Linked DNA regions of Homo sapiens. The protein of the gene in region 4 interacts with the protein of the main gene of each other region in a pairwise test. Each region holds a gene or a part of one and is shown on either strand. Other genes may lie near its edges.

Region 1 (3,500 bases), on a different chromosome or scaffold from region 4:
ATTAAAGGTTGTGTTTATGAAGCTATCCAGATATATGTAGTTATTGCCCCTATTCTGAAAGGCACCAGGCTATGTGCTACTTCACATTGGATTTGCCTTTCATAGGCTGCTCCCTCTTCTATCTACAAGGGTCTGCTGTCACTTCCTGTTGCTGTCTCCTGACTTGCCTATAGTGTAGTACCTCTGCCCTCTCAATCTCTTAATTTACCCTTAATCAAAACTTAATAGACCTGGGATTGAAATACTAGTACACTGATATAATAACAAATGAAGATCTGAGTAAATACATAGACATTTTCCAGTGCACTTTGACTACTCAGAAAACTTGACTTGGGCCAACTTTTTATAGCTTAACTGTTTTTAGATAGATGAAACTGATGGTTCCAAAGAAATGAGGTATTGCAACAAAATTTCAAGGTATGGTAAATAAAATCAGAAGAACTTTACATCATAAAAGTCTGGTAACATGTCAGTCTTTTCCCCAAATACTAAAAAAGAAGAGTGCAATGTTTCTCCGTATTTCCGAAGTTTCAACTCTGCGCCCCTCTGCTTTTTCCTCAGCCCATATTGACTCCTGTCTTCCCTGAAAGTAGCTGCATTGCCACACTTTATATTTTATTATATTTCATCCTCTAGTGTTTCATGTCTGTGCCCTAACTAAAATTGTAAGCACCCTAAGATTGTGTTATAAATCTCTGAATTTTTCCCTATACTGCCACCCTAGAACATTAAAGACCGCTTGATACCCAGGAAGTTCTTAATGGCCATTTGATTACTCAAATGTTAACATTTGTTTCAGCTAAATTTATTAAACTGTTTGATTGTCTCATACTGTGAAAATACCTGGATTTAATAAAAATTATTTTCAATTTATATTTCTTTAGACTACTATGCTGCCAGAAAAACACATAGTTCTCTGGGAGAGTAGATAAAGGAAGAGAGGGACTAAAGTCTAGTAACCTAATATAAAGGTTGCAAAAGACTTGATGTATTTTTCTATATATGAGGCTGAGTGGGTAGTGGAAATTGAATATAGAGCCTAGAATTTTACCTCTTCAAGAGATGGATTTGTTACTTATATTCCTTTGGTTTAGGAGTTGTGGTTTTTGATCCTTTTCTTCAGAAAAAGTTAGAATGTCTGAAAAGCCTGGACCTCTTTAACTGTGAGGTTACCAACCTGAATGACTACCGAGAGAGTGTCTTCAAGCTCCTGCCCCAGCTTACCTACTTGGATGGCTATGACCGAGAGGACCAGGAAGCACCTGACTCAGATGCCGAGGTGGATGGTGTGGATGAAGAGGAGGAGGACGAAGGTGAGTAGGCTCAGCATCTGGTGAACCTGATGTCTGCCTTTCAAAGCCTCTGATAAAAGCTATTGGATGTTGGCCGGGCGCAGTGGCACACAACCGTAATCCCAGCACTTTGGGTGGCCGAGGCAGGGGGCATTGCTTGAGCCCAGGAGTTTGAGACTAGCCTGGGCAACATGGCAATACCTTGTTTCTACAGAAAATAGAAAAAAAAAAAATTAGCCAGGTGTGGTGGCGCACACCTGGAGTCTTAGCTACTCAGAAGACTGGAGGCCGAGGTGGGAGGATCACTTGAACCTAGGAGTTTGAGGCTACAGTGAGCCATGATTGTTCCCCACTGCACTCCGTCTCAGAAGACAGACAGGGTGTCTCAAAAAAAAAAGCTACTAGATGTTCTTACTATTGAGGAAAATAGTGTGTGTTTGTGTGCGTGCGCACGCGTGTATTTTTTGAATGTAGGCATTCCATTAAATTTATAGCTAAGGCCTATTTCATAAGCACCTGGCCTCAAGGGATCCTCCCACCTCAGCCTCCCCAAGTGGTGGGATTACAGGGATGAGACACTGAACCTGGCCCGGGAAGCATTTCCTGAAGTCTACAAGCTAAGTTAGGATGCTGTGCGTTTAAACTGTAAACCGCTTGCTCTTACAGGCTTGCCACTCTGCTGTTCTTAAGTCTTCCTACTTCAGGGGTCTTCAACCCACAGGCCACAGACTGGTACTACTCCATGACCTGTTAGAAACCAGGCCGCATGAGCAGTGAGGAAGCCTCATCTGTATTTACAGCCACTCCCCATTGCTCACATTACTGTCTGGGCTCCACCTCCTGTCAGATCAATGGTGGTATTAGATTCTCATAGGAACGAGAATCCTATTGTGAACTGCACATGTGAGGGGGCTAGGTTGTGTGCTCCTTAGAAGAATCTAATGCCTGATGATCCGAGGTGGAGCTGAGGTGGTGATGCTAGAGCTGAGGTGGTGATGCTAGCACTGGGGAGTGGCTGCAAATACAGATTAACATTAGCAAAGAGGTTTGACTTTACAGAGATGATAATAAATCAATTGCTTGCAGACTCATCAACCCCTATCTGTGAGTGGCAAGTGACAAGCTGCATCTGGTGGCAGGCTTTATAGTGGCAAGTGAGTTGGTGTACTTCAGTTGTACAGCTGTATCTGGTGACAGGCTTTAAGTCAGAATCTGATGCTTTTTTTAGTCAGTGCATGGCCTGCCCATTTTTTTATTTACCACTTCCATCCACACCTCTTTCCCGCACTGCGTATTTGTCTCAGTCACAGTTTTGTTAGGCCCACAAGCTAACTATCCAACATGAGTAAAAAACGTCGCTGGAGAGCTTCTTTGAGAAGGGGGAAAGACCCAATAATGAGACAGCAGAAGACAAGACTGCCAATGAAAAGAAAGCTTCATTGAAAAGAAAATACCAAGAGTGCTACTTAAATTACAGGTTCATTGCAACAGATGATTCACATTCTCCAAGCCCACTTTGTATAATATGTGGCAACAAGCTATCCAACAAAGCCATGAAACCTTCAAAACCACTTCACTGGCTGGGCACAGTGGCTCATGCCTGTAATCCCAGCACTTACAGAGGCCGAGGTAGATCACCTGAGGTCAGGAGTTCAAGACCAGCCTGGCCAACATGGGGAAACCCTGGCTCTGCAAAAATACAAAAATTAACCAGGCATGGTGGTGCACACCTTTAGTCCCAGCTTCTCGGGAGGCTGAGGCATGAGAATTGCTTGAACCTGGGAGGCGGAGGTTGCAGTGAGCCGAGATTGTGCCGCTGTGCTTTAGCCTGGGCGATAGAGCAAGACTCCATCTCAAAAAACAAACAAACAAAAAAAAAACTGCTTCACCACTTGGAGACCAAGCACCCTGCGTTTAAAAGACAAGCCTTTGGAGTTTTTCAAAAGAAATAAACATGAACGTGAAAAACAGAGGCAATTATTGAAAGCTCCCACTTCATCAAATGTGACTGCACTGAGAACATCTCATTCTTAGTGGCTAACTGCATTGCTAAAGCTAAGAAGCCCTTAACTAACTGCATTGCTAAAGTAAGAAGCCCTTTACTATTGAAGAGTTGATCCTGCCTGCTGCTAAGGACATTTGTCATGAACTTTTAGGAGAGGCTGCAGTTAAGCTGCAGTTCAAAAGGTGGCACATGTTCCTCTTTGA
Region 2 (3,500 bases), on a different chromosome or scaffold from region 4:
CCACTTTGTCCTTGCTGGGCAACCGGTGGCCATGTCCTTATCCCTGCTCATGCTCAGTTTTCTCATCTATAAAACTGAGGTCATAAAAATGACCTCCAAGCATGTAAAATGTTTAGCATAGGCTGGGCTCCTAGCAAACACTGTTTTATTTCTTTTATTTATTTATTTTTGAGACAGGGTCTCACTCTGTCACCCAGGCCGGAGTGCAGTGGCATGATCTTAGCTCACTGCAACCTCCACCTCCCAGTAGCTCACTGCAACCTCCACCTCCCAGGTTCAAGTGATTCACCTGCCTCAGCCTCCCGAGTAGCTGGAATTACAGGCGTGTGCCACCACGCCCGGCTAATTTTTATATTTTTAGTAGAGATGGAGTGTCACCATGTTGGCAAGGCTGGTCTCAAACTCCTGGCCTCACGTGATCCACCCGCCTCGGCCTCCCAAAGTGCTGGGATTATAGGCACAAGCCGCCACACCTGACCTGCAAACACTTTCTGAATGTTGCCTTTGAATATTAGCCTACTACACATTTTCTACAACACTGCTGCTAATGCCACCTATCTTCTCTTCTTTACCACGGTGGTTCTCAAACCTGGAGGGCTTGAAGAATATGCCAGTGTTTGATCCAGTAGCCTGTTGTGGGGCCTGAGAATCCGTATTTCTGGCAAATTCCCAGGGGGAACTGATGATGTTGGGCCAAGGACCACACCTTGAGAATCACAGCTTTAGAAAATAATTGTCAAACTGAGTTGGAACTGTGAATTTTGCATAGAATTTTTTTTTTGCCAGGGGAAGAGGGGTGATGACAGGGTACTGTCTTTATTTAAAATGTTGATAGTTTGTTTATCATGGATTTGGGGGGCATTAATTTGGGTTTTTAAAATATTTACCTTTTAGGATATTAGTTGATGACTGGGTTTTGGTGCCCCCTTAAATTTTACACCCAAGGTGCGTGCCTCCATTGTTTGACCCTAGTTCCAGCCGTGACTGATAACCCAAATATTCCAAAGGTTAAGGGTGCTGTCAGAAGTTGAAAATTTCTTCTTAGTGAGGCATGTTGGCTCACAAATATAATCCGAGCACTCTGGGAGGCTGAGGCAGAAGGATAGCTTGAGGCTAGGAGTTCAAGACCAGCCTGGATAACATAGCAAGACCCTATCTCTACAAAAATGTTTGTAAAAAGAAATAGCCAAGTGTGGTGGCACGTGTCTATAGTCCCAGCTACTCAGGAAGCTGAGGCAGGAGGATTGCTTAGTCTAGGTGTTCAAGGCTGCAGTGAGCTATGATCATACCGCTGCCCTCCAGCCTGGGCAACAGAACAAAACTCTATCTAAAAAAAAAATTTTAAATATAATTAATAAATATTTTAAAACATAAAATTTCTTCTTTCCTATGTGTGTCTTCACTGTATACCTCTCAAAGTAAAGTACTAAAACCTATGTTTTACAGTATAAGCCGAGCCCAGTGGCTCATGCCTGTAATCCTAGCACTTTGGGAAGCTGAGGTGGCTGGATCACTTGAAGTCACCAGTTTGAGACAAGCCTGATCAATATATTCATAATAAGTACAAAAATCATGCCACAAAACTGTGTGCTATGTTTTTATAAACAAATTTATGTGTGGAAAAAAAGGTAACGTCTCAAAATATTACATGTATGTAGAGATATAGAATTACACGTTTTTTTACCTTTTCAAATATATTAAAAGTATAGACATGCTTTTAAAAAATTATTAGGTTTCTAATTACATGTTAATACAGATGATTTGGAAAATGTAATGATTTTTGTACTTATTATGAACACTTTCCATGGCAATGAGGGTTTTTCTACAGCAACATATATTAATATGTATAATACATATTAACATTCATTAATGAATGTGAATGTACTGTAACGTGTTAATTATACTCTGTTAATCAGGCTGTTTCCCAATAATGCTGTCCTGAGCATTTTACCCATAGATTATTGAAAAGATGTAAAATGTATGTGATGTATACACATTGCCACAGAGAATGGAGTTTCCATTCTTGCCCTCAACATACATAAGCGACTCTTTCCCAACGTCATTTTCTATTATCTATATTCTAGTTAGTGATTCTGCCTTTTATTTGTTATGAATTTAAACTGTCCCAAATTCATGTAGTTATTCCTTTGTTCTAGCATTTGAATACATCTGCATCATCTATTTTAGCTATATATTTCATTATTTTAGAGCCAGATTTCTAATCTGTTTTCAAAGAGCTGCTCTCTTCCCCCATCCATCAATTTAGTTTAATTTCTCAAGCCTTGGTATATTAATTTTCTATTGCTGCTATAACAAATTACCACAAACTTAGTGACTTTAATACAACACAAACTTATTACCTCTTGTGGGTCACAGGTTCAGCATGAGTCTCCCTGGACTAAGATCAATGTGTCAGCAGCCTGCATTCCTTTCTGGATGCTCTAGATAGGAATCCCATTTCCTTGTTCATCCTGGTTCTCAGCAGAGTTCAATTTCTTGTGTTCGTAGAAACAAAGTTCCCACTTTCTTGCTGGCTGCCAGTGGAAGGCTGTTCCCAACAGTGTTCTTTGGCTCATTGCCTCCCCACCCCTACCCCTTGTTCCAACTTTAAAGCCAGCAATGACAGGTACAGTCCTTCTCATGTTGTGTCTCCATGAATCTCTCTTTTGCGTCTTCCTCTTCCACGTTTAAGGATGCAGATGATTAGACTGGGCCCACCTGGATAATCCACTATAATTTCCCCATCTCAGGGTCAGACAATTAACAGTCTAAAATTCCTTTTGCCATGTAATATAACATATTCAGAGGTTCTTGGATTAGGATATGGACATCTTGTGAGGAGATGATATTCTGTCCACCACACTTGGTAGCTAGAACTTTTCATAGGTGCATATGGTTGTATCATAAAACCTTAGGAAGCTGTTTATAGGGCTCACCTAATGGTCCAGTTTATTAGCCTGCTTGTCCATAGTCTGTCAGGTGGGTTTTTTGGAGAGACATATCCACTGACGCGTGCCTGACAGCATTAGAGTGCGCCACACTCCAAGGCACATTTAGATTACGCTCTCAAGGATACATTTTCTTACCCCTATTGCCTGTCTTCTGCCCATTCATTTCCTATACTCCTGTGTCAGGGAGAGCCCACACCTGTATAAATGGACATATTTCACTTTGTCTTTCCACACTGTTTAGAAATGCCCATTATGACTGGCTTCTTTCATCTATTTCTTTCGACGTCCTACATCTTTCCGTTTTCATTAGTAGGTAGGCCTTTTCATCTCCAGTCTCTTCTTCTTCTCCTAAGTTACTCCACCCAAAGCAAAGGGCCCCACCTTATAGCTTGTCAAGCAGCAGACAGTGGGTATAATAGATAGAAGCCTTGGCTAGGAGTACTATTTTGTGTATTAGGATTTGGAATGGAGGAAAGGCAAATGCTACCACCACACTTGAGTTCATAACAGCACAGCTCTCATCTCTTCTGTTAGCTTATGTTTCTGTGG
Region 3 (3,500 bases), on a different chromosome or scaffold from region 4:
CGTGCCTTAGGGGGTTTTTGGGGATGTGTCCCAGGCGTCCTTTATTGTCCTTCTCAAAGAATTTATCTCTCTTGGCCAGGCACGGTGGCTCATACCTGTAATCCCAGCACTTTGGGAGGCCGAGGCGGGTGGACCTGAGGTCAGGAGTTCAAGACCAGCCTCACCGATATGGTGAAACCCCATCTCTCCTCAAAATACAAAAATTAGCCGGGCGTGGTGGCGGGCACCTGTAATCCAAGCTACTCGGGAGGCGGAGGCAGGAGGATTTCTTGAAGCCGGGAGGCAGAGGTTGCAGTGAGCTGAGATTGAGCCACTGCACTCCAGCCTGGGTGACAGAGCGAGACTCCATCTCAAAAAAAAAAAAAAAAAAAAAAAAAAAAAAAAAAAAAAAAATTATCTCAAGAGTTCCTTAAACCTCTTTTATCTAAAAGTTTATCTTAGATGACAACTTTCTTGAGATACTTTCTTACTGTGTGTGAAGTGACAGTTTTTGGTTTGAAGTTAATTTGGCAAAAATTTGGCTGTGGTACAAACTTGGTGTTCCCCATGCATTGTGGATTTGGATTTGTCATGCTTTTTAGTGTTAAAGATGACCCAGGCCTGCCTGGATTCTGGAGGGAAGTCTACTCTCAGCACTTCCTATGAACAGACTTGTTAGTTATTTGTTTGTTTTATCCTGCACAGTTAGGCTAGTTTACTGCCCACTCGTGTTTGAACCTGAAGGTAACTTTAAGGCACAGCCTTCGGATTTAAGTGCAGAAATGTTTTCTGCTAAAAATAGCATACATTTATGCAAAAAATAAACATGCTACTATCTTCTTCAGTATGAAGATGGAACGTAGAGTTTACGCCTCTTCACAGCCAGAAGCTGCTAAAGACTAACTTTTGGCAGAGACTGTGTAGAGGTATAAATAAGCCGTGACTCCTAGCCTGCCATGTCCCTCACTTGTCCTAGGAGAGAATGTAGAGCATAAAAGCCCGCATGGTAGGCTGCTTCGTTTGATAGTGATTTTTTGCTATGAGTAGCAACATAGAGCTGTGCCAGCCTGGAGGCCCCAGGTCTCCTTTGGCTTTCTTTGCAGAAGCTGTTTGTGTGGCAGTTCCATCAGTTCTGGCCAGCAAGTCCCTAGCTTCTTGCCAGCACGATATTAAGATGCTTCTAAAACCCTAATGGGCATCATCAGTTAGCAATGTACTTATTTTCTGTTCTTTAGTGAAGTGATGTCTGGTTATTCGAAGCATTTGCATTTCTAGTGAGAGAAAGTGAATTACCCCAGAAGTCTTCCCTCCCACCTGCCCCCAAGTCTATGGACTGTGTGATGTAGTTACATAGATCATGATATAGCTTACAGTTCAGCACAGGCCCTTGCAAATTTTATTTTAGAATCCAGTGAGAAGAAAAGCATTGTTGCCTCCCAGCCCACCCTCCTGCCCACCCCTGTGGGAACTGGCGAACCTATCTTTCTTGATAATGGGACATTGCTGTAACTTGGTTTCCAGGGGTCTGCTGGCCGGATGCGAAATAACCACATCCATGTACTACACTTGTGCTCTTCTCTTGGGTCTGATTCTGGGCTGCTGTGTACCATTTGTTCTTTCCTTCCTTCAGGCCTCTGTAGTGAGCTGTTCCACATCTGGTAAAGAGAGGCCTGTCGATGATGAGGATGGTAGATAAATGGATCAAAACTGAAGTTCTTCCCTGACAGTGTCCCCTGAAATTGGGTTCCTTTGCAGTACACCATTTTGAATTCTGAAGCTATTAATATGGGAAGTTCAGGGTATTAAAAAATAGATAAATCAGTGCCATATAGTCTTACTCCTCACTTGGCTTGGTGTGGATATACCAGGGTTGGCAGTTATCTGCGTTTTTTTTCTCCCTGTGTCTTATTTCTAACTTTAGTCCAACGAGAGTTTGGGGTTGATGGTCGTCACCGGGGAGGAAGCAGAGTCCCTGAACTGATCCTGGGTCCGTATCGGTGCCATTCCGTGTTCTTGGTAGATTTTCAGAATTCCCAGATAATGGTTCCCAAAGTTTTCTAGCTTCTGGTCATGGAAGGATGCCCAGAAGACGTCCTAGATCTTACATACTTAAACCTGTCTCTGTACCACTGCTAAGAGTCCCGTCACATCCAAGCTGTCACCTAGGTGATGTATCCCTGTTACTGCCTTCCATATTTACTGTGTTCTCACTTGTAAAACAGAGCAATGTTTGAATGCTGGAGACCTCTGCCATGTGGAATTTGAAAATGTCGGGTGAGGATTTCTTGAGTTGACTGAGTGGTGTTTTGCTACAACCTGTAGAGCTTTGTGACCTGGTTTCACCTCATGGCTCTGAGGGTTCCAGAGAAGGGAAAGGTGCCCCTTGACTGAGGACGCAGTGGCAGGTCATCTGCCTGTCCTGGGTCACTGCCCTGAGGTGCAGTCAGCTCTCCCGCCCTGTTATTCAGGAGTCTGGTTCCTGCTATTTAGAGGAGACCAGTCAGCATTTTTCCCCCGTTGCGTCCTTTCCTGTCTGAAGATCACATCTGTCATGCTGCTGTCTCTCCTTTTCTGTGACTGTCTCTCCTCTTGCTGGTGCTCCCTGGTTGTCCCACGGTGGAGGAACCCACCCTGTCAGTGTTTTGCTTACAGCCCTCATGCTCTGAATGGAACCCATTTCTGTCGCGGGTATGATGGTGCACAGTTCAGTAGTAGGTTGCCTGCTCTCTGATTTTATTCATCAACCAATTTCTTGCACATTTAAAGGAAATTCAGAGGGAACTCATAATATGAAGGGGAAGCTTTTCATTTTTCATGTTTTTTCTCATAATGCTGTCAGTTGTTTTAAATGCATGTCTTTTTTGTGGGTCTGTAACAGTGTCTTTGTGCTTTTTCTTGCTCTTATTTTATTAGGTCGTGGAGTCAGATTTGAGTGATGATGGCAAAGCATCTTTGGTGAGCGAGGAAGAGGAAGATGAAGAAGAAGATAAGGCTACCCCTAGAAGAAGCAGGTCTAGAAGAAGTAGTATTGGTCTTCGAGTAGCCTTTCAGTTCCCCACCAAGAAGCTGGCCAACAAACCAGATAAAAACAGTTCTTCCGAGCAGTTGTTTTCTAGCGCACGCTTACAGAATGAGAAAAAAACAATTCTTGAAAGAAAGAAAGACTGTAGACAGGTGATACAAAGGGAAGATTCTACCTCTGAGTCTGAGGATGACTCTCGGGATGAGAGCCAGGAGAGTTCAGATGCTTTGCTGAAAAGGACCATGAACATCAAGGAGAACAAAGCCATGGTGAGGCTTCACGGAGGGCGTCCTGGGAGTTGGCACCAGGCTCTGGCAGCAGTTGCTGGGCTCCCAGAACCACTTTGCTCCTACAGCTGCTGCTGTTGCTTTGGCTTCTGTCAAGAAAATATACTCTGGGTATTGTGTATCCTTTTACTTTTCCAGAACCCAGAGCAACTATTACATGATCAGCTCTGGTTTGGGAACAGAAAGAGATTCCCCAGCACCATTTTTAGCCC
Region 4 (3,500 bases):
TTCTCGGGATTTTTACCATATACCTGTGGGGTAGTCAGGGCAGATATAATGATTCCTATAATGATGGGAACCGAAGCTCAGTTACCTGACCTCACGAATAGCAGAGGCCGGAGTAAACCCAGGCCTCCTCTCAAAAGATCTTTCCCCTCTGCCCTGTGGAGCCAGGCAAAGCCAAGGCTCATGGAGGAGGCCTTAGCTGCTAGCAGGGCACTTTTAGAAGGATTTTAATGAGACAATTAATTTATTATTCATAGCAGTAATGCAAATATAAAATGAAGTCTCTTTTCACACATTGGATTTTGGGTTAGATTTATCATAGTATGTACATTGGAAACATGTTTATCTGTCAGGTGTTCAGTCTCATTCATTTATTCATTCAACAAATTCATTGCGCTCCATTTACATCCATGCCAAGCCCTGTTCTAGTTATTCTTTTTAATATTCAGTTCAGTTATTCAGCTTCCCATAGATGAAGCACACAGTGTGGCAGCCATGCCAGCTGAGCAGGGTCGACATCTCTGAAACTCTGAAGTCTCTTTTCAGTGGCTTTCTTGATGACAGCTGCACCCACTAGAGTCCCCAGAATCTCCCCAAAGAGGACACACTCGAACAATTCCTCTGCACTTTTACAAGTTAGAGAGTTATCTCCCAGCCACGACATCGTTCTCCTCCCTGGAGGACTCGGCAGGTCCGTCTGTAAAATGGAGGAGGTCTTCACCTGGAGTCAGGTGGCCTGGGTCCCACCCTGGTTCTTGGTTGGTTTCAAAAGGCTTGGGAGCTGAGCCCCACTTCCAAGAGGAAGAAGGGTCTAGTGTGTCACCATACCTGGGGCAGGAGTTGCAACCTCAGAGGAAATGAAGGGCCAAGGGGGAAAAGTGGAACCCCAAAATCCCAGTATGTGGAAGCAAGTGCTTCCCCTCTGTTCCTCCCCACAAAAGCTCCACCTTCAGCACCCTGGCCCCACTGTGTCCTTGTGTCCCTGTGCTCCTTCTTGTAAGTCCTCTCCTTTTTTGGTGGTGGAATGAATGGGACAGATGACCAGGAGTGTCTCTTGGGGTTAGGTACGTGGCCAGTAATAGTGTTATTTACCCAGAGCTTGCTGTGTGCCAGCACTATGTAAAGGACTTTGTAAATGTTATCCCATTAATTGTCCCAAGAAACGTGTTGTTTTTCCCTCTTTATGGATGAAGAATTTGAGGAGTTCACAGAGTTACTCAGTGCCAGAGCCAGGATGCAAGCCAGGGTCTGCCTGTCTCCAAAGCAAGCCCTTAACCGCATGGCAGGCTTTGTTCAAACGTGCTCCCAAGCGGAACCCCCAGTATGTCCAGCAGATCAAAGGGGAGCAGAGCTGCTTGAAAAAAGGTCGAGGAGACCCAGAGAGCCTTACGTGCATTTCACATTCCTCTGTGGGCCTCTGCAGAATGTTAGGGCGCCCCCAGTCACTGTTTTAAAACTCCTGGTCTAGACAGTTCCCAAGGCTTCATACAGCACCTGATTTGTCCGATTATACTCTAGGACCGAAAAATGGCTTCAAAAATAATTGCAAGCAAAGTCAAAGTTTGGAGAGCCTCTTGAGGGAACTTAAATACCGATGGCTTCTTTCAATTTATGTGCACATAAACATATGTTTCGGTAGCTGTGGATGCAGAACTTGGTCGTTCTCACGTATGACTTGTTGCCTAAAGTCTGGGAGGCATTTGTAGTTAGGCCATCCGGGCACTCCATCTCTCATTTAGTTTCTATTGCAGCTACACTGTGAGGTTGCTGTTGGGTCGGCCTCATGTTTTACAAATGGGAACCTCAACTCAGGGATGAAAGTGATTTGCCCAAGGCTACATGGTCATTAGTAGCTGACCACACTTTCCAGTGGGGTCTCCTGACATCCACTTCTGAGTTCTTCACCTTGTCAGAGCTGCCACAGCTCCTTGCTCCAATCTGCCCACGTGGGCTGATCTCAGTACGTAACTTCTCACCCTCTCTCCTGCTTAGAGACTTCAGCTCCCTTGTCATGGGCCTAGAATCAAGGCAAAGCCCTTCACTGAGTGTCTAGTATGCACGGTCTGACCCGACCCATCTCCCTGTCCACAGCTTTCATGTAACCGCCTTCCCTTGAGCCAACCGGCTTCCTAAACCAGGACTTCCAGGTGCAGAGGAGGCACCACAGGGAGAAGGAATGGGGTGGGCAGGAGCTATGGCCTGGGAAAGCCCCTCCTGCTGGGAAGAAAGGAGCTAGGGCTTGTTTACTGCCTCCGGTGTGTGCTGGGCACTTCCGAACTTTATCTCATTTAACACTGAGACCAGCTCTGAGAAGGTATTGTCATTTCTACTTTTATATGAGAAAAATGGGCCTTTAGAATTGTTAATGTACGTAAGGTCATAGAACTAGGAGACAAGAGCCTGGATCTGGAATTTGGACATGGCCTGGCCACGATCTTTCCACTGTACCATGCTGCCTTGGAGGAGTGAGGCCCCGCTCTCCTCTCTCTTTCAGTTCGCTGTCTGTTTCTAAACCGCCCTTCCAGCCTTCTCTTGCTCTTCACCCTCACTGAAAACATGTGCTGTGTCAAACTGATCACATCATTCCCTCCTAAAGCACCTTCCCATTCTCATCTCTGCCATTTCACTGCGGCTCCTTCTCCATCCTAGCCTCCTACCATTCCTTACCCCATTTCCAAACTCCTTCTAGTAAAATCCTGTCTCTCCTATCGGTTTTTAAAGCTCAATTCAAATATTACCTTGGCCTGTAAGCCGCCTCAGTTTACATAGCGTAGCAGAGAGAAGTTGGATTTAGAGTCAGAAAACCTTGCTTTGAATCTCAGGCTCCAGTTCTAACACCTTGGATAACACTCTTGAGGGGTTTTCCTCATCTTCTGTAATAGAAGAATAACGTTGGCCCTCCTGACGCACATGCGAAATCCTGTATGGTAAAACGCTTTTTCAAACTGGAAAACACTGTATTTCTGTTTTTATTACCCCATTCTCTCTCCTTCTCCCAGATTTAGGAGTTATCTTTTCTTTTTTTTTTTCTTTCTTTTTTTTGAGACGGAGTCTCGCTCTGTTGCCCAGGCTGGAGTGCAGTGGCGCCATCTCGGCTCACTGCAAGCTCCACCTCCCGGGTTCACGCCATTCTCCTGCCTCAGCCTCCCGAGTAGCTGGGACTACAGGTGCCCGCCACCACACCCGGCTAATTTTTTTGTATTTTTTTTAGTAGAGACGGGGTTTCACCATGTTAGCCAGGATGGTCTCGATCTCCTGACCTCGTGATCCACCTGCCTCAGCCTCCCAAAGTGCTGGGATTACAGGCGTGAGCCACCGTGCCCAGCCTAGGAGTTATCTATTCTTCCGATCACTTGGGCACTAAGTAATAACATTACTCTTTTCTGGCACTTACCATGTGATGCCTAATATTTACTTATTTTTGTGTGTGGCTTTATTGTGCTCAAGTCACCCTGCAGATCCTCCTCCGAAACTTAACAGCTGCCACATTGAAATGTGGTTGT
Region 5 (3,500 bases), on a different chromosome or scaffold from region 4:
GTATCTCATTGTGGTTATGATTTGCATTTTTCTAATGATCAGTGATGTTGAGTTTTTTTCATGTGATTATTGGCTGCATGTATACCTTCTCTTCAGAAGTAGATGTTCATATCCTTTGTCCACTTTTTAATTAGGTTGTTTTTTTCTTGTAAATTTGTTTAAGTTCTTTATGGATGCTAGATATTAGGCCTTTGTCAGATACAAGTTTGCAAAAATTTTCTCCCACTCCGGAGGGTGTCTGTTTACTTTGCTGATAGTTTCTTTTGCTGTGTAGAAGCTCTTTAGTTCAATTAGATCCCATTTATCAACTTTTGCTTTTGTTGGAATTGCCTTTGGCGTCTTCGTCATGAAATCATTGCCGACACCTATGTCCTGAATGGTACTGCCTAGGTTGTCTTCCAGGGTTTTTATAGTTTTGGGTTTTACATTTAAGTCTCTAATCCATCTTGAGTTGATTTTTGTGTATGGTGTAAGGAAAGGGTCTAGTTTCAATCTTCTGCATATGGCTACCCAGTTATCAAAGCACCATTTACTGACTAGGGAATCCTTTCCCCATTGCTTGTTTTCATCAGGTTTGTTGAAGATCTGATAGTTGCAGGTGTGTGGTCTTATTTCTGGGTTCTCTATTCTCTTCCATTGGTCTATGTGTCTGTTCTGGTACTAGTACCATGATGTTTTGGTTACTGTAGCCCTGTAGTATAGTTTGAAGTTGGGTAGCATGATCCCTCCAGCTTTGTTCTTTCTCCTTAGGATTGCCTTGGCTATTTGGGTCTTTTTTGGTTTCATATAAATTTTAAAGTAGTTTTCTTTAGTTCTCTGAAGACTGTCAATGGTAGTTTAATGGGAGTAGCATTGAATCTATAAATTGCTTTGGGCAGTACAGTCATTTTAACAATATTGATTCTTCCTATCCATGAGCATGGAATGTTTTTCCATTTGTTTGTGTCATCTCTGATTTCTTTGAGCAATGGTTTATAGTTTTGCTTGTAGAGATCTTTTGCCTCCCTTGTTAGCTAGATTCCTAGGTATTTTATTCTTTTTGTGGCAATTTTGAATGGGAGTTTGTTTGTGATTTGGTTCTCAGCTTGACTGTTGTTGGTAGATAAGATTGCTAGCAATTTTTGCACATTGATTTTGTATCTCAAGACTTTGCTGAAGTTGCTTATCAGCTTAAGAAGCTTTTGGGCTGAGAAGATCCTCCTACAATTATTTTAAACATACAGCAATTTTGCAAAAGGAACACCAATCTTTAAAAATTAAAAAAAGTTTAAATTATCACATATAATATATATATCAAAATATTACCATTACTAACATTACCAATAATTTATGTGTGATGATAAAATTGGGGTTATGACTTTTAAAACAATTCTTACATTTTAGGACAAGCGCTGAAATATTTATTAAATTATGTCTGAGATTTGATTTAAAATAAAGACAAAACAAGATTAGCAAAGAGTTGATAAATTGCTGAAACTGGATGATGGGTATGTTTGTAAATGTTTGAAATGTTCCATAATAAAAAGTTATTTTTAAAAAAGATTGCCAAATAATTCACTTATAAATAATCAAAAACTGGCTCTATGAGTAGGGCTCATTACAATTTTTCTGTTAAACAAACTGCAATTTATTAGACCTTCAGCTAACAATTCAAACCTAATAATGACAACGAAGAAGTCCTGACAAAAAAAGCATTAGGTCACGGTATGCATTTACCTAGAAATCCTCTACCTGCTTCCTATTCTACAGTTTGCATACACACTATAAAAACATATGTGACTCAGAAGCGCAAATAGGCATACTATATAAGGCACTGGGATAGGAGACAATTTGCTTTAATATTGACTCAACTTTTGCTTGTAAACAAAGAAATGTACTTGTAGACTCTTTTCTAAATCTGAGAACTTTTAATACTTATTCAAATTTCTGATAAAGATCTGGTATAAATTTTAATAGATAACAAAGAAAACTTTGCTTTAAGAAAATTAAAAATAAGTCTAATGTTTTGAAGTTTACATTTTTCTTGGCTAGGACAATTTACACTGTCCCCTCAACTCTCATACTGAAATAGAACATTGAAAAGCACATTATATCAATAAATAATTAATAAGTGCTCACAGTGTTCCTAATCCTGTGCTAAGCAAAATGAAGGTACAAAAAATCAGTATAAGAAAATCCCTGTTCATATATGTTCCTTCTAGTTGGGGAAGAATACAAGATATAAGTCATTTAACAGTTAGAAAATCATAAATAAAACTAACAAGAGTTAGATGAGTTAGAGATGCAAGTGTACAAAAACTACATGCACTTATTCAAAAATGGCGGCTTTGTATCATTCTTTATATTGTCTTCATTACCTAGAGCAAAACAGGTACATTAAAAAGAAGTGGCATAAGAACATTTTCTTATAATAAAATTTCACTTTTTTAAGGTATAAAGGAATAAACATATTTTTTTGAGATGGAGTCTCGCTCTGTCAGCCAGCCTGGACTGCAGTAGTACAATCTCGGCTCACTGGAACCTCTGCCTCCAGGGTTCAAGCGATTCTCCTGCCTCAGTCTCTCAAGTAGCTGGGGTTACAGGCACCAGCTACCACGCCTAGCTAATTTTTGTATTTTTAGTAGAAATGGGGTTTCGCCATGCTGGTCAGGCTGGTCTCAAACTCCTGACTTTAGGTGATCCACCTGCCTTGGCCTCCCAAAGTGCTGGGATTACAGGCATGAGCTACTGTGCTAGACCCAAGAATAAATTTTTAAAATAGATTCTGTTTACATAACTCATGTATTTTGGATTAGGGCAGAAATAATACTCTAGATTATACTTCAGTCAGAAAGTATTCACATCCTTTACTTAATTACACCATTGATAATTCATCTGATATTCTATCATTCAATCAGAGTCTTCTCCAGCTGGAAGACAGCTGAAAATATATTAATAAATAATATTTTAGCTTAAGTCTCCCTTAGTGATAGAAACACTGTAGCTCTAAGTGCATTAGATTCAATTTGCCACAGCTGCTCAAAGCAGATAATGGCAGAAAAATTATCTTTCAAGAAAGAGAAAATATTCAAAATATTAACTGAAAACCAGATTCTACGTGTAGGGACTACCAATTATTGGATAATTCATACTTGGTTACAGAAATATAATGTACATAAATGAATCATTATAACCTATCACTACTGCTAATGTAGGCTCTTCATATGTTCCCATGTTTTAGGAAGACCAGAACACAATTAAGAGCAAATGTAGATAACTGCATAAGATAATCTTCCTAAATCACTACTCTTCTGTTTAGGAAATCCGGCAGAATTAGAAATTAGAAATATAAAGAGAACACGTATTTAATTTTATATTTCTATCCTATTGTTATAACTTCAGGCATACTGCCCAAAAATATATGGCATGCACTGTTAAAAATCAATGAACTCCAATATCTAACTAGAATGTTCATCAGGTGCCAATCAGAAAAGTGAAAACTGTATATTGGATTAATTAGA
Region 6 (3,500 bases), on a different chromosome or scaffold from region 4:
AATATAGCCTCGGTTCTGAGCCAGGGATGTGCCTGGCACAGCACAGGGTAAAGCCCAGTCTGGGGCGCCTCTGGGCTGTCTGATTCTGTCTGGTGTAGGACTCCTGTGTGGCACAGAATCATCTTTGTGGCATTTAATTTTAAGAAATGATTTAGTAAAAATTAAAAAGTCACATATATACATGGTAAAAGTGACTCATACCTGTCTCAGTGTCTCAGCACTTTGGGAGGCCAAGGCAAGAGGATCACTTGAGGCCAGGAGTCTGAAACCAGCTTGGGCAACACTGTGAGACTTCGTCTCTTGAAAAAAAAAAAAAACATTAGCTAGGCACGGCACAGTGGCTTACTCCTGTAATCCCAGCACTTTGGGAGGCCGAGGTCAGAAGATCACCTGAGGGCAGGAGTTCCAGACTAGCCTGGCCAACATGATGAAACCCTGTCTTTACTAGAAATACAAAAATTAGCTGGGTGTGGTGGCATGCGCCTGTAATCCCAGCTAACTCAGGAGGCTGAGGTGAGAGAATCGCTTGAAACCGGGAGGCCGAAGTTGCAGTGAGCTGAGATCGTGCCACTGCACTTCAGTCTGGGCCACAGAGCGAGGAGACTCCATTTCAAAAAAAAAAACAAAAACTAACAAAAATGGCGTTGGATTGTGGGCTGCACTGTGTTGGCTGTAGATGAAGAGAACATGGCAGGGAAGGCAGCCCAGAGGGGCCCCGAGCCAGGCCTTACCCTGTGTTTTCTCTCACTCTCCTGAGTGAGCTGCTGGGATACCGGATGTGGGACAGGCAATTGGTGTCAGGACGTATCCCAAGCCCTTGAGCTGGGCCAGAGGGTCTGTCTGGTTTAGGACCCCTGTGTCAGCTTTGCCTGTTGGCTGCTTTGTGACCTCTGAGACGCTTTCCTTCCTGGTGTGTTTGGAAATAGCACTGCTTAGTCTAGTCTAGGCTGGTTCTTCCTGACCCAGCAGTGCCCTGGGGCTGGAAAAGCCCTACACCCTACCTGTTCCCTGCCCCAGGCAGGACAGCACTGAAGTCACAGTGAACAAAAAGAACCTCCTCCTCTGTACCCCAGCACCATGGCTCTCTGTAGAGCAGCTCGAGGGCATCTTGGTCACCATCCCTCATTAGGTCAGTTGCTACCAAGGCACTGTGAAAGCACTGCAGAGCTGCAGCCCATCAGGGTCAGAAAGGGACACAGGAAGACTCAGTTCTCTGGACATGAGTCTTGTATGTGCCACAGGCAGAGGGCTGGGAGGGGGCGGGGAGGGCAGGATGCCTGGGGATCAGAGTGCAGAGCCCATGAGGAGCACAGGCTGCACACCAGCTTCCAGGCCCAGCTCTGGCACAAATGAGTCTGTGTAATTCTGGGCAGGCGTGACCTCTGGGTCACTTTTCCTTAGTCTAAAGTGCGTTTTGTGATTTGCATCAACTCATTGGCGTTTTGGTGGCAAGAAGTGGCATGCCCACTGCAAGCCGTGTGCCTTCCCTCTGTGTCCTCCTAGGGAGAGCTGTTGCCTCCCTCTGTGTCCTCCTAGGGAGTCAGGGCCAAGGTGAGCCTGGCAGCGCAGGCAGTCTCATCTGCCACCTCCCGACTGACTGAGTGTGGGGGATAACACCACACCTTCCCTGTCCTCCACTCACCAGAGCAGGAGGGTGGGTGGGAAGAGCCCTGAGCCATAGCAGGCCTGTGTTCTGACGTCGTTTCAGATGGTGGAGAGCATGAAGTACCCCTTTAGGCAGGGCATGCGGCTGGAAGTGGTGGACAAGTCCCAGGTGTCACGCACTCGCATGGCTGTGGTGGACACAGTAATCGGGGGTCGCCTACGGCTCCTCTACGAGGATGGTGACAGTGACGACGACTTCTGGTGCCACATGTGGAGCCCCCTGATCCACCCAGTGGGTTGGTCACGACGTGTGGGCCACGGCATCAAGATGTCAGGTTAGCAGAGCCCCAGGCCAGAGGGACTGCATGCTGTGCTTCCCCAGGGACGGAGTGGGAGCACCTTCCTACTCGTCACAGCAGGTCAGCAGGTGGAGGTTGGCATGGCCCCCCTGCAGTGATGATACTGAGCTCCAGAGAGCTTGAGTAACTTGACAAAAGTCACTCCACTCAACTTGTGAGTGGTAAAATCAAGATTTGAACCCAGATGCTACCAGCCCCGATCCTCTCCCCTGTCAATGCGGGAGCAGTCTGGGTTTCGAGGGCTGAAGAGTCCCTACAGAGAGCTCTTGATGTTTTCTGGACTCAACCTTTCTGTCTGCTACTCTGGGGTGGGGGGTCCTGAGATACAGAGATACAGCTGAGAACACGTGCAGAGCAGCCCCACATTCCCAGGGGAGGCGTGTGGAGATGGCCCAGGAGCCGCCTCCAACTCCCTTCTCTCCCTCATTCCCTATCCATCTCCTCCAAAGAGAGGCGAAGTGACATGGCCCATCACCCCACCTTCCGGAAGATCTACTGTGATGCCGTTCCTTACCTCTTCAAGAAGGTGAGGTTCAGCTCTTGGGCGCTTTTCCCCTCAGCCATGGGTCCATTCCGGGCCTGAGGGACCTGGCTCTTCCCCTGGGACCATCCCTTTCCCTCCTGAGGCCTGCTTCCCTCACCCTTCCTCCTGGCCTGCCCAGGGAGTCCCCAGCTGTCCCATTCCTTTAAGGTACGAGCAGTCTACACAGAAGGCGGTTGGTTTGAGGAAGGGATGAAGCTGGAGGCCATTGACCCCCTGAATCTGGGCAACATCTGCGTGGCAACTGTCTGTAAGGTGAGCCAGGGGCCGGCTCTCCAGCCTCCAGATTTCTGAGCGGGGGGACCCATGTGGCCCAGAGCTCTAACCCCACTCGCCACCGTCAGGGGGTCTGTGTCCCAGCCTCTCATCACTGGCTGCACCCAGAGTCCCTGACTTTTGTGAGTGGGGCCTGGCCTGCCCCTTGCTCAGAATCTGCTTTCGTGTCAGGGTCCAAGGCTCCCTGGACGAGTGCTTATTCAACACCTGAGCCTGGTCCTGTGTCAGAGTAGGCCCCTCCCTGTCACCTCACTGGGGCCTTCTTGCTGTGTGCCATCTCCTTTGAGCGCTGGCCTAGGCAAGAGCCACAGCTGGGGTCACCTTGCTCCAAACCTCATCGCCTCCTCCTGAGCAGCACCCCCACCCCTCCTTGGCCCTCCTGGAGGAGGCTGCTGACTCGTCCTCGCCGCGGATCCGCTCCATGCCGGGCGCGTGTGCTCACCCAAGAACACGGTCCAACAGGATGGACGCGGCCCCTGCTGGCGTGGTGTTTGCTGTCTAGTGGGGAAGAGAAAGAATCCCACGCGTATGCATCACAGAAGTACTGTGTGCCCCAGAGAGGCTCAGGTGTCCTCCAGGAGGGCCATGCCCTAGATCCGTTTGGATCCATTTGCCTCGTGTCCCTATTGGGGTGCGGTACCAACCCAGGATGGGGTGCAGTTCATGATATGATCTGTCTGCCTGCTCCCCCCACCCCCCAGGTTCTCCTGGATGGATAC
Region 7 (3,409 bases), on a different chromosome or scaffold from region 4:
TACAGCTCACTGCAGCCTTGAACTCCTAGGCTCAAGTGATCTTCCCTCCCCAGGCTCCCAAGTTGCTGGGACTATAGGTGTGCACCACCATGCCAGCTAATTTTTTTTTTTTTTAATAGAGACTGGGTCTCACTGTGTTGTGCAAGCTGGTCTTGAACTCCTGGCCCCAGGCAGTCCTCCTTCCTTGGCCTCCTAAAGCACTGAGAATACAGGCATGAGTCACTGTCCTGGACCTTAGTGTTTTGGGGTGTGTGTGTGTGTGTGTGTGTGTGTGTGTGTGTGTGTAGCTATTATAAATGGGAATGCTGCTTTCTTGATTTCTTCTTGTTTGTTTATAGAAATGCCAATAATTTTTGTATGTTGATTTTTGTATCTTGCAACTTTACTGAAATTGTTTATCAATCCTGAGTTTTTTGTGGAGCTTTTAGGGTTTTCTCTTTATAAGATTTTGTCATTTGCAAACAGGGACAGTTTGACTTCCTCCTTTGCAATTTGGATACCCTTTATTTTTCTCTCTTGTTTCTTTGCTCTGGCTAGGACTTCCAGTGCTGCGTTTAATAAGAATGGTGAGAGTGCGCATCCTTATATTGTTCCAGCTCCTAGAAGAAAAGCTTTCGGCTTTTCCCCATTTAGTATAATGTTAACTGTGGGTTTCTCTTATATGGCCTTTATTATGTCGAGGTACACTCCTTCTAGACCTAGTTTGTTGAGGGTTTTTTATCATAAAGCGATGTTGAATTTTATCGAATGCTTTTTCTGCATCTATTGAGATAATCATATGGTTTTTGTCCTTCATTATGTTGGTGTGATATTTCACATTTATTGATTTGGGTATGTTGAACCATTCTTACATCTCTGGGATAAATCCCACTTATCATGGTGAATGATCCTTTTAATGTGCTGTTGGATTTGGTTTGCTACTATTTGTTGAGGATTTTTGCATGTATTTGCATCAGAGACATTGACCTATAGTTGTGTCCTTGTCTGGTTTCAGTAACAGGGTAATGCTGGCCTCATAGAATGAGTTTGGAAGAATTCTCACCTCTTCAGTTTTCCGGAAGAATTTGAGAAGAATTGGTATTTATTCTTTAAATGTTTGGTAGAATTCAGTATTGAAGCCATCAGGTCCTGAACTTTTTTTTGATGGGAGACTTTTTATTACTGATTCAGTCTTATTACTTGTACTTGACCTGTTCATGTTTTCTATTTTTTCTTGGTTCAATCTTGGTAGGTGGTATATGTCCACAAATTTATCAATTATCATTAGGTTTTCCAATTGGTTATTTTTAAAAAATTAGTATTATTATTATTATTTTTTGGAGACAGAGTCTTACTCTGTTGCCCAGGCTGGAGTCCAGTGGCACAATCTCAACTCACTGCAACCTCTGCCTCCCAGGTTCAAGCAATTCTTCTGCCTCAGCCTCCCAAGTAGCTGGTACTACAGGCGCATGCTGCCACACCCGGCTAATTTTTTTGTATTTTAGTAGAGATGGGGTTTCATTGTGTTGCCCAGGCTGGTCTCGAACTCCTGAGCTCAGGCAATCCACCCACCTCAGTCTCCCAAAGTGCCGTGATTGCAGGTGTGAGCCAATGCACCCAGCCTTAATTATAATTTTATTAAAAAATTTATTCCAGTAAATTTGACATAGGAACGGATGGTTTTGTAGAAAAAGTATAATTTACCAAATCACAACCAAATAAGGGTCATCACAGAAATGTAAGAAATGTTAAACATATGAAATGGTATCAATCTAATTCACCACATTAACAGATTATAGAAGTAAACCCATATGATCATTTCAACAAATGAATAACTTGACAAAATTCAGTATTTATTAATTTGAAAACATGTACTTGAGGCTGGGCATGGTAGTTCACACTTGTAATCCCAGCACTTTGGGAGGACGAGGCAGGTGGGTCACTTGAGGCCAGGAGTTCAAGACCAGCCTGAGCAACATGATGAAACCCTGTCTCTACTAAAAATACAAAAATTAGCCAGGCATGCTGGTACACACCCATAATCCCAGCTACTCAGGAGGCTGAGGCATGAGAATTGCTCAAACCCAGGAGGTGGAGGTTACAGTAAGCTGAGATCATGTCACTGCACTCCAGCCTGAGGGACAGAGTGAGACTCTGTCTCAAAAAAAAAAAAAAAGTAAAATAAATAAAAACATTTACCAAAGGATGAATATAATAGGATTTTCTTAGCTTTATAAAAGTTAATTACCAAAAAACAGAACTCCTACAAACATCATACTAATAGAGACTTTAGGAGCATTCCCGTTAAATTCAGGAACAAGACAAAGAGGACTAATGTTATTTCTGTTGAGCACTCTATTGAATTTGCTAGCAAATACAATAAAACAAGTAAAAGAAATATGATATAAGAATTGGAAACAAGAAATAAAATACTCTTAATTTGTAGGAATGTAAATTATCTACATAGGAAATCCAAAAGAATCAGCAAACGATAGAACTAATAAAATAATTTGGAAAGATTACTAGATGCAAAAGATATATGCGAAAGTAAAGTCCGTAGTGTTTTTGTCTATCAGTAATAACCACTTGGGAGGTGGTGGTTTTTTTTTTTTAAGTAAAAATAGTGAAATTTCTTTTCCTGATGTATCTAAACTAGGAGTTTCCTAATGAAATAAACCATCTCTGACCATTACTGCAATCATCCCATTGCTCAGCTTTATGAGACCCAACACCCCCTTTTGTAACAGATATTTTTAATTCTCCTTTACTATTTTGAAATGAATTTCATAGCTTAATATAATCTGTGTACATACATCTTTGAAAAGCATTAATTTAATTTAATATAAAGGCAAAAGAAAAACAAATTTATAATAATATGTGTTCTAACTTTGTAAATGTTAAAGAATAGCTATATCAGAAGATACAATGAAGTAACCATGTTTTTGCAGTTACTTTTAATGCATAGATTTGGATTTAAGAAAAACAAAACAACATTCAACTCATATTATCAACAATTTTTCTTTTTATTTAACCTGTAGAAATAAGGACTAGAAAAGTATATGCATATATATTAAAAAATTGCGTCTACAGCTGCCTATACAGACAACTATTGTTATGCGTATTGCTGCTCCAAATACAATGAGCAGCATTGATGTTACTAATGTGTTGCCCCAAACTATTTTTAAAAGAAAATTTTTGAAAAGTTTTTAAAAAATACAAAACAAAATCATCTTCAGTTTACATGATAGCTGCATACTTGTAAGTTTCAATTAAATATGTGCAAAACAATACTTGGAATTTATGAAAATGTATTTCAGCTCTGGTTTTAAATTTATAAACAGATCTTCCAAGTACATATTCCACCCGACTTTCAAAAATTTCACAGAATGTAGAAGAGTTCTTTATTGTGCAAGACTGGTTCATCCATTGC

What was found.
Region 1: the proteins of BEND7 (region 4) and ANP32B interact in binary tests that used the Homo sapiens proteins (3 or more experiments, as listed by UniProt).
Region 2: the proteins of BEND7 (region 4) and SMARCA2 interact in binary tests that used the Homo sapiens proteins (3 or more experiments, as listed by UniProt).
Region 3: the proteins of BEND7 (region 4) and CDCA7L interact in binary tests that used the Homo sapiens proteins (3 or more experiments, as listed by UniProt).
Region 5: the proteins of BEND7 (region 4) and CEP44 interact in binary tests that used the Homo sapiens proteins (3 or more experiments, as listed by UniProt).
Region 6: the proteins of BEND7 (region 4) and L3MBTL2 interact in binary tests that used the Homo sapiens proteins (3 or more experiments, as listed by UniProt).
Region 7: the proteins of BEND7 (region 4) and EAF2 interact in binary tests that used the Homo sapiens proteins (3 or more experiments, as listed by UniProt).

Annotation. Positions count from the first base shown.
Region 1 is NC_000009.12:98,003,841-98,007,340, forward strand, and holds part of ANP32B (acidic leucine-rich nuclear phosphoprotein 32 family member B), read left to right. Parts: intron 1-1,123; coding exon 1,124-1,313; intron 1,314-3,500. UniProt on the Homo sapiens protein: Multifunctional protein that is involved in the regulation of many processes including cell proliferation, apoptosis, cell cycle progression or transcription.
Region 2 is NC_000009.12:2,186,347-2,189,846, forward strand, and holds part of SMARCA2 (SWI/SNF-related matrix-associated actin-dependent regulator of chromatin subfamily A member 2), read left to right. Parts: intron 1-3,500. UniProt on the Homo sapiens protein: ATPase involved in transcriptional activation and repression of select genes by chromatin remodeling (alteration of DNA-nucleosome topology).
Region 3 is NC_000007.14:21,907,900-21,911,399, reverse strand, and holds part of CDCA7L (cell division cycle-associated 7-like protein), read left to right. Parts: intron 1-2,892; coding exon 2,893-3,270; intron 3,271-3,500. UniProt on the Homo sapiens protein: Plays a role in transcriptional regulation as a repressor that inhibits monoamine oxidase A (MAOA) activity and gene expression by binding to the promoter.
Region 4 is NC_000010.11:13,519,015-13,522,514, reverse strand, and holds part of BEND7 (BEN domain-containing protein 7), read left to right. Parts: intron 1-3,500.
Region 5 is NC_000004.12:174,304,411-174,307,910, reverse strand, and holds part of CEP44 (centrosomal protein of 44 kDa), read right to left. Parts: intron 1-3,500. UniProt on the Homo sapiens protein: Centriole-enriched microtubule-binding protein involved in centriole biogenesis. In collaboration with CEP295 and POC1B, is required for the centriole-to-centrosome conversion by ensuring the formation of bona fide centriole wall.
Region 6 is NC_000022.11:41,222,312-41,225,811, forward strand, and holds part of L3MBTL2 (lethal(3)malignant brain tumor-like protein 2), read left to right. Parts: intron 1-1,708; coding exon 1,709-1,940; intron 1,941-2,413; coding exon 2,414-2,490; intron 2,491-2,655; coding exon 2,656-2,760; intron 2,761-3,482; coding exon 3,483-3,500. UniProt on the Homo sapiens protein: Putative Polycomb group (PcG) protein. PcG proteins maintain the transcriptionally repressive state of genes, probably via a modification of chromatin, rendering it heritably changed in its expressibility.
Region 7 is NC_000003.12:121,880,209-121,883,617, forward strand, and holds part of EAF2 (ELL-associated factor 2), read left to right. Parts: intron 1-3,409. UniProt on the Homo sapiens protein: Acts as a transcriptional transactivator of TCEA1 elongation activity. Acts as a transcriptional transactivator of ELL and ELL2 elongation activities. Potent inducer of apoptosis in prostatic and non-prostatic cell lines.